Linked DNA regions of Homo sapiens. The protein of the gene in region 2 interacts with the protein of the main gene of each other region in a pairwise test. Each region holds a gene or a part of one and is shown on either strand. Other genes may lie near its edges.

Evidence for each region. The genes of interacting proteins can lie anywhere in the genome.
Region 1: the proteins of RXRG (region 2) and MAP4 interact in a two-hybrid assay, tested with the Homo sapiens proteins (one study listed by BioGRID).

Annotation. Positions count from the first base shown.
Region 1 is NC_000003.12:47,852,417-47,859,443, reverse strand, and holds part of MAP4 (microtubule-associated protein 4), read left to right. Parts: intron 1-1,931; coding exon 1,932-2,013; intron 2,014-4,083; coding exon 4,084-4,196; intron 4,197-6,091; coding exon 6,092-6,281; intron 6,282-6,386; coding exon of another isoform or gene 6,387-6,412; exon of another isoform or gene 6,413-6,505; coding exon 6,506-6,510; coding exon of another isoform or gene 6,511-6,652; 3' UTR 6,653-7,027. UniProt on the Homo sapiens protein: Non-neuronal microtubule-associated protein. Promotes microtubule assembly.
Region 2 is NC_000001.11:165,435,124-165,442,150, forward strand, and holds part of RXRG (retinoic acid receptor RXR-gamma), read right to left. Parts: intron 2,079-7,027; exon of another isoform or gene 1,808-2,078; intron 1-1,807. UniProt on the Homo sapiens protein: Receptor for retinoic acid. Retinoic acid receptors bind as heterodimers to their target response elements in response to their ligands, all-trans or 9-cis retinoic acid, and regulate gene expression in various biological processes.

The DNA.
Region 1 (7,027 bases), on a different chromosome or scaffold from region 2:
CTTGGGCTGTGGGTGCAAATACAAAAATACTGGTGGCATTATATCTGTCCTCTGGAAACATGGTGAAGACTATATTTCCTGACACCAAAGAAGGGAAAACAGGGCTCAAGAAGGTAGCTCACCATTTAACAGCTTGTGGTGAAACCCACCAGAATGGTGCAACACTGCATGGAGTTGATGTGTTGGAAAGTCAGGCTCTCCCACAGTACCTACCAGAGGACAGCGGGGCCGCTCACAGGAATGCTGGAATCCCCATCCAGCAACCCAGAGGGCATGCATGGCTATAGACTTAAAGATGCACCACCTTTTTTTTTTGAGGCGGAGTCTCTTTCTGTTGCCCAGGCTGGAGTGCAGTGGCACGATCTCGGCTCACTGCAAGCTCTGCCTCCCGAGTTCATGCCATTCTCCTGCCTCAGCCTCCCGAGTACTGGGACTACAGGCACCTGCCACCACGCCCGGCTAATTTTTTTTGTATTTTTAGTAGAGACGGGGTTTCACCATGTTAGCCAGGATGGTCTCGATCTCCTGACCTCGTGATCCGCCCGCCTTAGCCTCCCAAAGTGCTGGGATTACAGGCGTGAGCCACCGTGCCCAGCCAAGGTGCACCACCTTTAAATGCAAATTTTTGCATTTTTAGTAGAGATAGAGTTTCACTGTGCTGGCCAGGCTGGTCTCAAACTCCTAGCCACAGGTGATCTGCCTGCCTCAGCCTCCCAAAGTGCTGGGATTACAGGCATGACCCACTGCACCTGGCTGGGAAAATTGTTATAACATGGATTAAGCAGGAATACTATGATTACACACACACACACACACACACACAACGCGCACACACACACACACACACACACACACACCACCCCCTCACCTCTCCCAAGGGGAAAATGCATTGAAAAGGACTAGAAGTAAATATGTTATTCCAGGTTCTCTGGGCAAGGAGTTGATAGGTAAGGATTTGAGATGGAATAAAGGGGATATTTCATGGGAGCCTTGGTGCTGGTGTTTGGACCTGGTGAAATGACAGAAGAGCTGTCTGGAGCATGCATGGACAGGGTCTGCACAGAAAGACCTGTGGGGTGTGGAAATGGTGGTTTGGTCTGGCTGGAGGTGGGGTTAGAAGTGAAGGCTGGTGGCCGGGCGTGGTGGCTCACACCTGTAATTCCAGCACTTTGGGATCCTGAGGCAGGCGGATCACCTGAGGTCAGGAGTTCGAGACCAGCCTGACCAATATGGAGAAACCCTGTCTCTACTAAAAATACAAAATTAGCTGGGCGTGGTGGCGCATGCCTGTAATCCTAGCTACTCCAGAGGCTGAGGCAGAAGAATCACTTGAACCCGGGAGATGGAGGCTGGGGTGAGCCAAGATCGTGCCAGCCTGGGCAACAAGAGTGAAACTCTGTCTTAAAAAAAAAAAAAAAAAAAGTGAAGGCCAGGCGTGGTGGCTCACGCCTGTAATCCCAACACTCTGGGCTCTGGAAATCTGAGGTGGGTGGATCTCCTGAGGTCAGGAGTTCGAGACCAGCCTGGCCAACATGGTGAAACCTTGTCTCTACTAAAAATACAAAAAATTAGCCAGATGTGGTGGTACACGCCTGTAATCCCAGCTACTCGGGAGGCTGAGGCAGGAGAATTGCTTGACCCCAGGAGGCGGAGGTTATAGCGAGCTGAGATCGTACCACTGTACTCCAGCCTGGGCAACAGAGCGAGACTCCATCTTTAAAAAAAAAAAAGGAAGTGAAGAGCAGGGCCAGGGTGGGTCGAGGGCTCTTTTAAGTACTTAGGGAGATGACCTTGTCTTTGACCAGACTGAGATAGCAGCTTACAGAGGGAGCGAGAAACCCTGAACATGGAGAAGATTTAAAAGGTAGCATGGGGTTGGCTCTGACAGTATACCTTCTCTCTGAATGAGTCTTTTGTGTCCTTCTCTTCAGGTTCAGATTCAGAACAAGAAAGTGGACATCTCTAAGGTCTCCTCCAAGTGTGGGTCTAAGGCTAACATCAAGCACAAGCCTGGTGAGTGGTGCCTCCCTTGCCCACTGGGTCTCCAGGGTATGTCGTCCTGCCATGGGTCAGCTGGGCAGCCAGCTGGCTGGCAAGGGTTTCATCTCTGTGCCTTTAGCATCCCATGAAGACTACCCAGGACACCACAGTCCTCATTCTGTCAGGGAGCAGGAGTTCGGGTGCTAACCTCTAAGTGGAGGAGGAGCAGTTTCTTACAGCAGCCATCTGCACAGGCATTCTCTTGAGTACCTACTGTGTGTGTGGAACTATTGAGCTAGGCCTGGGGAAGTGGTGCACTCTGAGCTGAGAACCTGGATTGGCTCTAAACGAGGATTACAGAAGCTACTGCTGAAGGAGCTGTATAGAGGGCAGTGTTCAGGTCCCACCTATCAGATGCAGGAGCAAAGGGTGCTCCCAACCAGTGAAGCATCAGCCGCTAGCCCTGGCAGGAGAATGGGAGGCGTTCAGCAACTTGCACTAATGCAGTTTCCTTCCAGCAACATGGTTGGCCCAGCGCCCCTGTGGAAGTCGCTGTGCGGAGGCTGGGCTCTTGCCTTGGGTAGTCCCCTAGCAGCCTCGTGTCCTAGTTCCTGGGTCTACAGCAGATTTGTGAGTAGGACTGCTGTAGCAGCAGGCACACTGGCTGGCAGACCTGGTATCCCAGAAGGCTAGCCACCACAGGCCAGATAAGGTGAAGGCAAAACTCTCTTCCCTCAGGGCGGGCGCGGTGTCTCATGCCTGTAATCCCAGCACTTTGGGAGGCCAAAGCGGGCGGATCACTTGAGGTCAGGAGTTTGAGAACAGCCTGGCCAACATGGTGAAACCCTGTCTCTACTAAAAATACAAAAACTAGCTAGGTGTGGTGGTGCATGCCTTTGGAGAATTGCTTGAACCCAGGAGGCAGAGACTACAGTGAGGCGAGAGTATGGCACTGCACTCCAGCCTGAGCAACAGAGCGAAATTCTGTCTCCAAAAAGAAAAAAAAAAAACTCCCTTTCCCTCTCAGCGAAGAGCATGATCCAGTTTAGAATGTGTTCTATTTAGAAAGATCAAAACAGTTCTGTCCTTAACTAACCATTTTTTTCCCCTTTTATCTGGGAAATCTCCTATCAGATACTTCCTTCTCTAATGACACTGAGTCACTTAGGGTCTAGTTTTTGCCAGGGCTGGGTTTCCCAATATGGGACACCGGGAGACCTCGGCCAGAAGCTGTGCGTGGAGGTCTGCCATGTGAGCTGAGAGGAGATGGAAGAACAGGAGAAGGGGCCCAAGGGAAACCACGCTGCTGGGCGCGGGAGGGGCTGGGTACTCATTGAGGGCAGCTCGTCCCGCACCCTTCCCCTTGGTCTCATGGGCACACTCTGGCCAGTGAGCTCTGAACCCTGGGCGTGAGTTCAGACCACTTTCCCTCCCCGTCCTAGCCTGAGGTCACTAGATCCCAGGCCTGCCTTGGTCCATGTCTTTCCTTCCTCAGCGCACAGCCTCGGGGCCACTCTGTCCTTTTTATTATTCCTTCTTTTTGCTAGAGTGTGGTACGGTTTAGGGTCTCAGACAATTTTCACAACCTGTCACTGTCAATCAGCAGATTGGTGGTAACTCTGGGTGAGTCCCTTCTCTTTTGCAGCATCAGTTTTACCGGCTGGGAAGCAGGGACCGTGGCCGTGATGACAGGGCATTCATGAGAATTCAGTGAGGCTGTGCCTGAGAAGCACTGCATGGCCCAGTTAGCGGGAGGGCATTCCCACACAGAGTAGAGAAGCAGAGGCTTCGCCCTGGAGGCTGTGCTCGGAGCCCCAGGCCTGCCCAAGCCTGGCCTGCAGCTCAGTGGCTGTGGCATGGGGTGGTGGAAGGGATGGCTTTCCTTTTCTTGGAGGTATTCCCACTGGCTGGACGGAGAGATTGTCTCAGCCTCACTGTGATATGAGAAGTCCTCTTTAGACAAACGTGTTCACTGTTCTTCATTTGCCACCCAGAACAGGTCACGTCTGTCTCATTTCTAGATTGGGCATATCGCTAGTCCTGGTTTTGCCTGCAGGGATATTCCTCTGCCACCCTAGGTGACCAGTTCCTTTGTGGTTCCAGGTGGAGGAGATGTCAAGATTGAAAGTCAGAAGTTGAACTTCAAGGAGAAGGCCCAGGCCAAGGTGGGATCCCTCGATAATGTGGGCCACCTACCTGCAGGAGGTGCTGTGAAGGTAGCGAGTGGGTCACTGGGGAGACACAGCTGGGGAGGGGTGGGAACTATGCAGTTAGGGTCAGGGTCCTCACAGGTAGGCACCTGTCACCGCCCCTCAGTCTCTTCAGGAGTCATGTCTTCACCCACACCATTGCCGTTTTCCCACCGTGTATCATCAGTCCTGACTGAGGCAGAAGTGAAGAGGCCCCAGCCCAGCCACCCCTCACCTGTCAGCTGGAGGCAGAACCTTGCTCCTGAGAGCCATGGCCTTCCTAATTGAGCCCATCCAGCCATTTGAGAAGGCCACGGACTGGGACACAGACCACCCCCAGGCGAGCGGGGGTTCTGCACCACACAGTTCTCCCCAGCTGTCTCGCGCCAAGGGGAATGTGGGTTCCCGCCCCATGTCAGGCTCCGCTCCTGGGTTAGGAGCAGGACAGCACATTCTTAGCTGCCAGCGACAGCAGGCTGCCTGGGGCCTCCCTCTGCAGGGCCTGCCTGGGGCCTCCCTCTGCAGGGCCTGCCTGGGGCCTCCCTCTGCAGGGCTCTGGGACAGAGCTCAAGTGGCAGAGGTTCCCATCCTCACGACTGGCTGGGCCTCTTCTCCCTTCCCTCTCTCCTCTTTCCTCCCTTCCTCCTTCCACAGTACTGTGAGACCTTTTGTGTGCCAAGATGCTGTCTGTCCTATGTTCCATGTCATCCGTGGGTGGGGGGCCCATGAGGGGCATCTTGCAGACCCCGAGCACAAGGATGGCTGCTGCTGCTCGGGTTCAGGTGCGCAGGGGAGAGGGGCCAGGAGCCGCTGCCCTGGGCCTTCCCTTCCATCTCTGCTCCCCAGTGCCAGCCACTGCCCAGCCCGTCCCCTGTCCCATCCTCTCCTGATGCTCTGACTGAAGCCTTGATCAGCTTCCAGGAACATCTGGGGGGGTCCTTGCTGCCACAGGCTCTCAGTTCGTGCCCCCCATACCTCGTGAGGATGCCGTTCTCACGCCCGTCTCAGTGGGGCGTTAACTTGGCTTTAGTCTCTTTTCCAAGGACACAGCGAGCGAGCGTGGACCAGGATTCACATCTGGGCTTTTCTGACCCTAAGCCTTGTGTTCTTTTCCTTGTTCACATTATATCCCTTTATTAGTTCTGGAATTATTGTTTTTAATCGAGGCCTATTTCTCACTATGCCGATTAGAAACCACTTCTCCCTTGTCACTTTTTGGGTATTTGGCGACACACGCTTTCCAGCTCCCCAGTGGCCTCTCGCAGCTGTTCTCTCTTCTCTGCCTTCCTCACACTGAGTGTTCCATGTCCCCCAAATGTCCTCCTCCTATGACGCCCTCCAGGCCTCCACAGTGTCCCTGGGTTATACCTCCTTGGACACCTTTCTGCCTCCCATGGACCCCTGGTCCCAGAATGGTGCCCCGCACAGACAAGGCCTCAGCACCTGTGTTCCTGACCAGACAGATGTGCAGGCAGGGCTGCCCGGGAGCTACTGAGGACCCCACTCTGTGTGCAGGGGGTGGCCTGGGTTCAGGGAGGGTTTGGGAGGGTGGGCTGTACCCTTCAGGGGGCTACCCTTCAGGCTTATTGCTTACTGTTGTCATGGCTACGTCTTTGGTACCAGCCTGAGGCCTGGCACCTCTGCCCTCAGAGAGGCTTCATCAGAGCCTCACATGCCACAGAGGGGCTCTGAGAGTGTGTCACTGGTCCAGCTGCTCCTGACCCTCGGGAGTCGGTCTCCCAGGTGAGGTGGGGTGGGTGGGGCCGGGGCACCTGCCTGGGATTCTCCAAGCGACTGTGCCTTGAGCCAGTGGGTGCCAGGGCAGCAAGGGTGGGGGCTGTGTGTGAAACCCACCACCATCACCCCATCCCACTCCCCCCCTCGACTGACCCTGCACTGTCTCCCCCACTGTTTCATTGTAGACTGAGGGCGGTGGCAGCGAGGCTCCTCTGTGTCCGGGTCCCCCTGCTGGGGAGGAGCCGGCCATCTCTGAGGCAGCGCCTGAAGCTGGCGCCCCCACTTCAGCCAGTGGCCTCAATGGCCACCCCACCCTGTCAGGGGGTGGTGACCAAAGGGAGGCCCAGACCTTGGACAGCCAGATCCAGGAGACAAGTAAGTGGCTGGGCTCGGCCTAAGGGCCAGCCAGGGGCCCTGCCACTGGCCGCAAATTGAAACTCCTTTGTTTTTGACTAGAGTGTGGCCTAAATTTTAATGAAGTAACCTTTTATTTTCCAGGCATCTAATGATGACATTCTGGTCTCGTCTTCCGTCTCCCCCGTGTTCCCCTCTTGTCTCCCCTGTTCCCCTCTCCCTTCCCTCCTCCCATGTCACTGCAGATTGAGACCTACAGGCTGACGTTCCGGGCAAATGCCAGGGCCCGCACCGACCACGGGGCCGACATTGTCTCCCGCCCCCCACACTTCCCTGGCGGCCCCAACTCGGGCTCCCGGGTCCTTGGCCCCCTTTCCCGGGCTGTCCACTAGACCAGTGAGCGCTTGGGCGCCGTGCTGGGCAGCCCGCTAGGCTCGCCTTCCCTCCTGCTTTGCGTGCCCGGGGCAGCAGCAGCCCTGCCCCACACCTCCTCTCACTCCCCAGCCTGGGCCCATCTCCCTGCTTTGGTCTTGCCCCATCACTGCGCCACTGCTCCGTGGAGGAGGTTGGGAGGGGGTTGGGGTGGTTGAGGCTAAGTTGGGATCTAGGAGAGGAGAACCAGATTCTATCCTCATCTTTTTTTGGTTCTTTGGTCCAAACCCAAAAGAAACTGACATGCCCTCCCTTCTCCCTGGATCTACCTGGAGGGAAGAGTGGAGGTGGATTCCGAGTGGTGACAGGACGCTGACCGTGGAGCTTAAGCCACT
Region 2 (7,027 bases):
GGGATTTTTGGATTAGGAATGCAAAACAAGTAAGCACATAATGTAAACATCACAAAATCAAAAGAAGATTCAAAATCTGAAATATCTTGATTCACAAGCATTTCCAATAAGGGATACTCAGCTTGGAGTGGCTAACATTTATTAGGCAACTTCTATGTGCCACGCACCCTTCCAAGGGCATGGCATGCATCATCTTGTTTAATAGTCTCAAGGGCGCTTGGAAATAAGGTACTATTAGTATCCTCATCCCCATTTTACTGACAGGAAAGTGGAGCCACAGGGAGATTGAGCAAACTGCCCAAGACCCGCTAGCTGGTAAAGAGCAGGGCCAGGATCCAAATCCAAGCAGTCTTGTGCCGGGGCCGCTGTGCTGAACTCCTGCACTGCGCTTGCCACTTGCCAGGATGGAGGGGAGATAGTGGAAGGTAAGCCCAGATAAGCCCCAAATGGGTGGATTATATGTAAGAACAACTAAGATACTCAATTCTTACCCTATGCTCTTCACAACTTACTTATGGATCATAATGCATTCTTTTCCTTTTGAACACACATAATTGCACCAAATGAACAAAATGACTAGGAGTGGGAGGCAGGGGACTGGGCCCCCAAAGGTGCTAATAAAACAAGGATTAAAATACTTTTCCAGGTGGACCTCAATTTATTTTAATATGTGAAACCCAATTTTGCATTCTGGAGTAGAGGTTGGCACACTTTTTCTTTCCAGGGTCAGACAGTAAGCATTTCAGTCTTGCTGGCTGTACCATCTCTGTGACAACTACTCACAATATCCTTTGTAGTGTGAAAGCAGCCACAATCAATGGGTAAGCTAGTGCACACAGATGTGGCTGCATTCCAATAAGCTTGCAGACCTCTAGGGGATCATTCTGGAGAAGTTTTATTATCATTACCATTTCTGATTGCTCTTCAGTTAGCAGTGATCCCCAACACCTTAGCTCCACACTGCTCTTCCTCCAGCTTTCCCCTCACAGAGCTGGATTGACTGTCAAAGCTACACAGAAGGGCCTGCAGATCATCGAGTTCAACCCCTCGGTTACAAGCAAGGACACTGGGGAAAGGAGGTATGGCTTGCCCATGACCTGTGGCTGTTTGTGGTCTTCAAACTGAGTTTCCCTGAGTCCCCTTGGAGCCACCTAGGATGGCAGGAAGGGGAGTAGAGGGGGCTGAACCACAGTGAGTCCTCCTCCCACCCTTTGGTAAAATAGCTCAATGCCACCAACCACATGGGGTAAGGGTTAACCTTCCACAGTGTGAGGGTTAAATAAAATCAAGCCTGGAAAATTGTAAACACATAATAAAAGTTAGCTCCCTTTATAGAAAATCTGGAGACTATGGCACTAAATTTAGCTAGAATTTGGTATGTACCTTTTTCTTAGAGGAGATTCGCCTGTTCTTAAAGTGTCAGACTGCACACTATGAGATGCTGACAAAGTAAATAAGACATGGATTCTGCCTCGGAGGGAGCACCATTTTCAGAAAACTACGTTTTAACAAATCATCCCAGGGCAGGCACTCATGAGGTCAGACAGAAAGGGAGCCATGACCTGGGACTTCCAACTCCTATCATTTTCAGGAGACCCTCACCCCAGGCAGTGACCTTGAGAAGTCCTGACCCCCTCCATTTCCTCAAATGCAAATGGAACAACCTGGAGTTCCTTGGCCTCTTTTATCAGCTACTGTAACCAGATGGGGACAGAAGTGGGGGACAGCAAGAGTTTCAAGGTTAAAGATCAATCCCAAACTCCTGGTGGGATTTCAGAATTAACAACCAAACTTGAAAAGTGGAAAAGCCTGTTATCATCTTTAATTCAAAAAGCATTTACAAGATGTCAGAGGAACGGGAAACAAAGCACTTAATGAATATCTTGGAGTGTTTCTTCTAGGCTGGTTGCCTGGGTTTCATTTCTGTGACTCAAAATCTCCTTTGCTCCTCCTTTTCATTTTACTGGTCACTAGTGTCATGGGGAAGCAGCCTCCTGGAGGGTTCAGGGCTCACAGTATCTGTTTTCACAGCCCTAGCGATGTGGAGAGCAGAAGTTGGAGAGCAGGGGAAGAACACCCTAGACCAAGAAGAATGCCAGTCAGTCAGTCAGCCAGCACGCCTGGCTAAGCATCTGCTTGTATATGGGCTGTGTAAGACACCAAGAGCATGAAGCCCATTCCCTGCCCTGGCAGAATGTACAAACTAGTTACAAGCTCTGATGTCTTCAAAATATTTGGAGATTAATTATTTCTGCACATTTTTCTTAGGGCTGAGTTTAAGTGAATGGATTCAAAGAATTCAGGGATTTAGAACCTGAGAACAGATAATGTTCTGAATATTACCCAATGGTAACATGGGACTAGGAATATAGTTCGCTGTATTTTAAGAGACTGCCGTCTTTAGAAGACAATCTATAGAGATTGCCCTGTTCAGATAGAGAGAGCCTATCTGAACAAGAAATCCAGAGACAGTAATGGACAGAGGTCATGGATTCAAGAGCTGGGTGTGCACATAATTGATGTTCAAGGACTTTAGGAACGAGAGGAGAACTGGGGGCACCCTCATTGGCATCTGCTTCAAACACTCATTGACATCTGCCTCCATGGACTAACTGGTACATGATGTACCAGTATACGGAATTGGCTTAAAGGGACAGCCAGCCGGTCCTCGTTAGCAGGATCCCCTGGAGCCTCTCATTTGTTAGAGATGGCATAATATCCATCTGTACTAGCAAGGTCTATAATTTGGTGCTGGCTGGGAAAGGTGGTGTGCAAGCAAAATGTCATTCATTATATGCAGAAATGTTCACAGAAATTCTGCTAGACTAGACTCAAATTCTAGATCTATAATAATTTGCAGCAGGCCTTAAAAGGGCCACTTTATCACTCTAAACCTCAGTTTCCTAATCTGTCTAATGGGAATAATTTCCGCCTTACGGACTACACTGTCAGTTTGAAGTTTGAATGAAATAGACGGTGGCCTCCAGGAGGGGCCCCTCTATCTGTTGTGCTGAGATTGACTCAGCCCTGGCTCAGCGATCCTCAGAAAAAAAGTGAAAATACAGGTTGAGTATCCCTAATCCAAGCCTCTAAAATCTGAAATGCTTCAAAATCCAGAACTTTTTGAATGCCAATATCATGCTCAAAGGAAATGCTAATTGGAGCATTTTGGATTTCAGATTTTTGGATTATAGATGCTCAATTGGTAAGTATAAGGCAAATATTCCAAAATAAAAAAAAAATCCCAAATCCAAAACACTTCTGGTGTTAAGCATTTTGGATAAGGGATACTTAACTTGCATCAACTCATTTCATAACTACAACACCACTTTAAGGTCCGTAGTTTTATTATCCCCATTATATGGGGATTAAGCACACGGCTTGGCACAGAATAGACACTCACCAAATATTTTTTGACAGATAACCCAATGATTGGTATGGAAATAAATAGCACATATTCATAAAGAGTTTTAGGAATGTAAGGCATTATCTAGCAGACGGAATAAACTTGGACCCAGGGGCCAGAAGACCTGCTGTTTTTGCCTATATGGCCTTGGGCAAGTCTCTCAACCTCTCTTCTATAAAATGAGGTGGTTCTTCAAGTTCTAAAAGTCTGATTTCTAAACAAAAACAACCAACATGGTCTTATTAATTTACAACATAATTAATTCAGAGTGGTGACTAAACTGGTCATGGTATAAACTAGTTTGTATTTGTTCATTCACAAAATAATAATAAAAAAGGTTTGTTAAGCAAATAAGATGGTAGAAATGTTAAGCCTATTTAAGATACATATGTTTTCAAGCAATTTAAAAAGCATAGAAGGAGCACATTGGCATATTAACGGGGTGTTAATTACAAAAGAATCTTTTAAAGCAGGTTTTCTAAAATCCCCACTGAGTAACCATTAGCTTGTGGTACTTGAAACACAAACTGTTCACATGTGTTACTTAGAAGTAATAAAATTGTAATTTAAAAGTAATCTGCCAACTTGTCACGAATTTAGACTGATTTTTCTCTCAATTGATCCAAATGAGTGAGGTTTTGCTATAATTATATATAATGCTGGTAATAATGAGGCTGATTATCAATCTTTCCCTGCTTTTCACTACCTCCATCATTACAGATTTTAGGGGAGGGGGGCGGGGGTGGAGGAAGATGGGAGGAGTGGGAGCGAGGGGAGGAGGGGGGTGGAGGAGAGGGAGAGAGGCAGGGATGCCACTCTCTCCCTCCCCCTTCCTTCAAGCACCGGAAGCAACCCCAGCTCCCACCCTGAGCAGCTCATCAGCCCTTCTCTGGGGGCTACATGAATCCAGGTGGAACTGCCCTGTGCGGCTTCGAAAGGCTAGCCAGCTGGTCCGAACTGGGGTTGCGTGAAGCATGCAGCAGCGTCAACCCATCAGCTAATGCATGCTTTCATTCTCACATTCCCACTGAGAGGCTGAGAGGCCTGAGCCTCTGGGGGCAGAAGGAGGGCCTCTTCTACATGCTCTCCACTCTCCAACACATTCCTTGATTTTTCCCCACTGAGGAAGCCAGAAAGGGCTTCCATAGCAGAGAAGGTTTCCTTCCCATCAGAAGAAAGCTTCTCTCTGCTCCCCATTCACTGGAAATTTAATGTCTAACATCTTGTTTTCTACATCGGTTAAAATGTAAAGCTTTGCACCAGTAAAACAGTTATAAAATACCTTCCCATTCCATCTCAGGGTGATTGTGCAGCCTAAATGTTTATAGGAAAGTCCCCTTGAATATGCTGATAATAATTCAAATATAAGAAATGCATATTAGCTAATCCCTGGTGTCTGAGTGGCTGTTATGTGGAAAGAGGAGGGAGAAGAAGATTAGGCTGGGCTGGGAGCCCTGAGGAAGGGAACCCAAACTAGGGGTTGAATTGTGAAGAGATAGAGTCAAGATGTGGAGTGTTCTAGTGAGAAAGGCCAGGGTCAAAATCCTGGGAGAGGCCAAGTATTGAATTGGGAAGGGGCAGGAAGGTCTGTGCTGGGTAACTGCTGTAAGAATTTACAGAGTAGTACAGTATAGTACATGGTAGAGCTGGGATTAAAATCCAGATCTGCTGCTTTTCCTCATATTCAAATGCCACTTTTATCATTTATTAGCCAAGTTCCCTTTGGCAAATTATTAATTTCTCTGTCCCCCAGTTTTTACATCTGTATAATGGGGGTAATAAAACTACCGACCTTAAAGTGGTGTTTTAGTTATGAAACGAGTTGATACAGGTTAAGTATCTCTTATCCAAAATGCTTAGCACCAGAAGTGTTTTGGATTTAGGATTTTTTTTTATTTTGGAATATTTGCATTATACTTACCAATTGAGCATCTATAATCCAGAAATCTGAAATCCAAAATGCTCCAACGAGCATTTCCTTTGAGCATCATTTTGGCATTCAAAAAGTTCTGGATTTTGAAGCATTTCAGATTTTAGATGCTTGGATTAGGGATACTCAACCTGTATTTTCACTTTTTTCTGAGGATCACTGAGCCAGGGCTGAGTCAATCTCATGAGAGCCACCAAAGCCCATGCATTCTAGAAAATTAACTTCATTCCCTGGGCCTCTGTGTCTTCTACTTTTAAAAAGAGGAGAAAACACCAGCTTCCTCTGGGAGCCCCTGGCACACCCGCGATCCAATGCTGGTGGCTAAGTTCTCTGCAGACCTAGAAGCTTCATAATGAGGGGAAGGAAGAGGTGGGGCATTTAGATTCTCTTTGCACAATTTCTTCCCCCAGTTGCTATTCAGCTCTCTATCTCTTGGTGAGATTGTAAATGTTTTAGAAAATAGTTTATACGAAATATGTTCCTTCCTAAATCTCATAAACAGTTACTCCTTTCCACATAAACCTTAACCACTTATGCCCATGATAGGTTCCAATTAGCCACCCACATATCTGTGGAGGGGAAAAATATGTTCTAGCATATACACACATGTGCACACGCACACATACAAGCAGGTCCAACTCAACCCCTTCTCTATGGCTATTTTCAAGTGAAAGCAACTATTCTACATGAATGGTCAGGGTCAGTTGGACAGGACTCTTGCAAATAAGTATGTACCCAAGGGAAGCCACCAATTAATTCTGCAGAGATCACCGTTGCTCTTAACCTATCCCATGGCTTATTCCTCAATGGCCAGTCCACTGGGTCTGCAACAACCAGTCAGTGCTGAGGCTGCATATCTGAGGTTGTATTGGAGCACCGGGAGCTCCCTGGGGGTGTGCTGCTGCCCCTGGCTTTGCAGAGCAACTGTGTCACTCACAGAAGCTGTGAGAGGCAGCTCAGCAGTGTGAACTCTGGGAGCTAGTCTGCCTGGGTTCAATCCCTGGCTGTGCCATTTTCTAGCTATAAGACCTTAAGCAAGTTATTTCACCTCTCAATTCCTCTGTTTCTTTGTCTCTAAAAGGAGTACGAGAACAATGGTAACAGTACCTACTCCTAGGGTTGTTATGAGGATTACATGAGCCGAGGCTGGTAAAGTGCTTACAATAGTAGCGAGCATTAGTGTTACAGTGTGTTTGTTAAATGAAATGAGAGAAGTCCTCTCTCTCCCTGATCTCCTTCTCACCCTGAGGATTACTGCACAATTGGATGGGGGGGATTACAGGCTTTGTTTTGCCATCTTCTAAGAGGCAGCAACTGTCTCATCCCAGAAAAACAAACCTATTACTGAGCAGCTGGCAAACCCTGGACTTGGCAGAGAAGGAGAAGAGAAGGTTTCTCTCATCATTACATGGTAGGGCCCAAAGCTGGGAGATTGGGCACCTTTGTGGAGCCACCACGTAGCCACCACACTTTGGCCAGTTTGAGCAATCTGTTGCTCACTGATCAGATGATGCTCTGACATCTGGTAAGCATGGTCCCAGACACAAATCTCAGGTGTTATTTCCAAAAGGTGACTTTGCTTCCCTGGAGATTCTTATACAAATCATGGGGCCCTCTGTAATTCCATGTGCTAATATGTAACAGGGCAGGGGGTTATACACCAAGTATTTTAATAAGTGCCGTGCAACTTG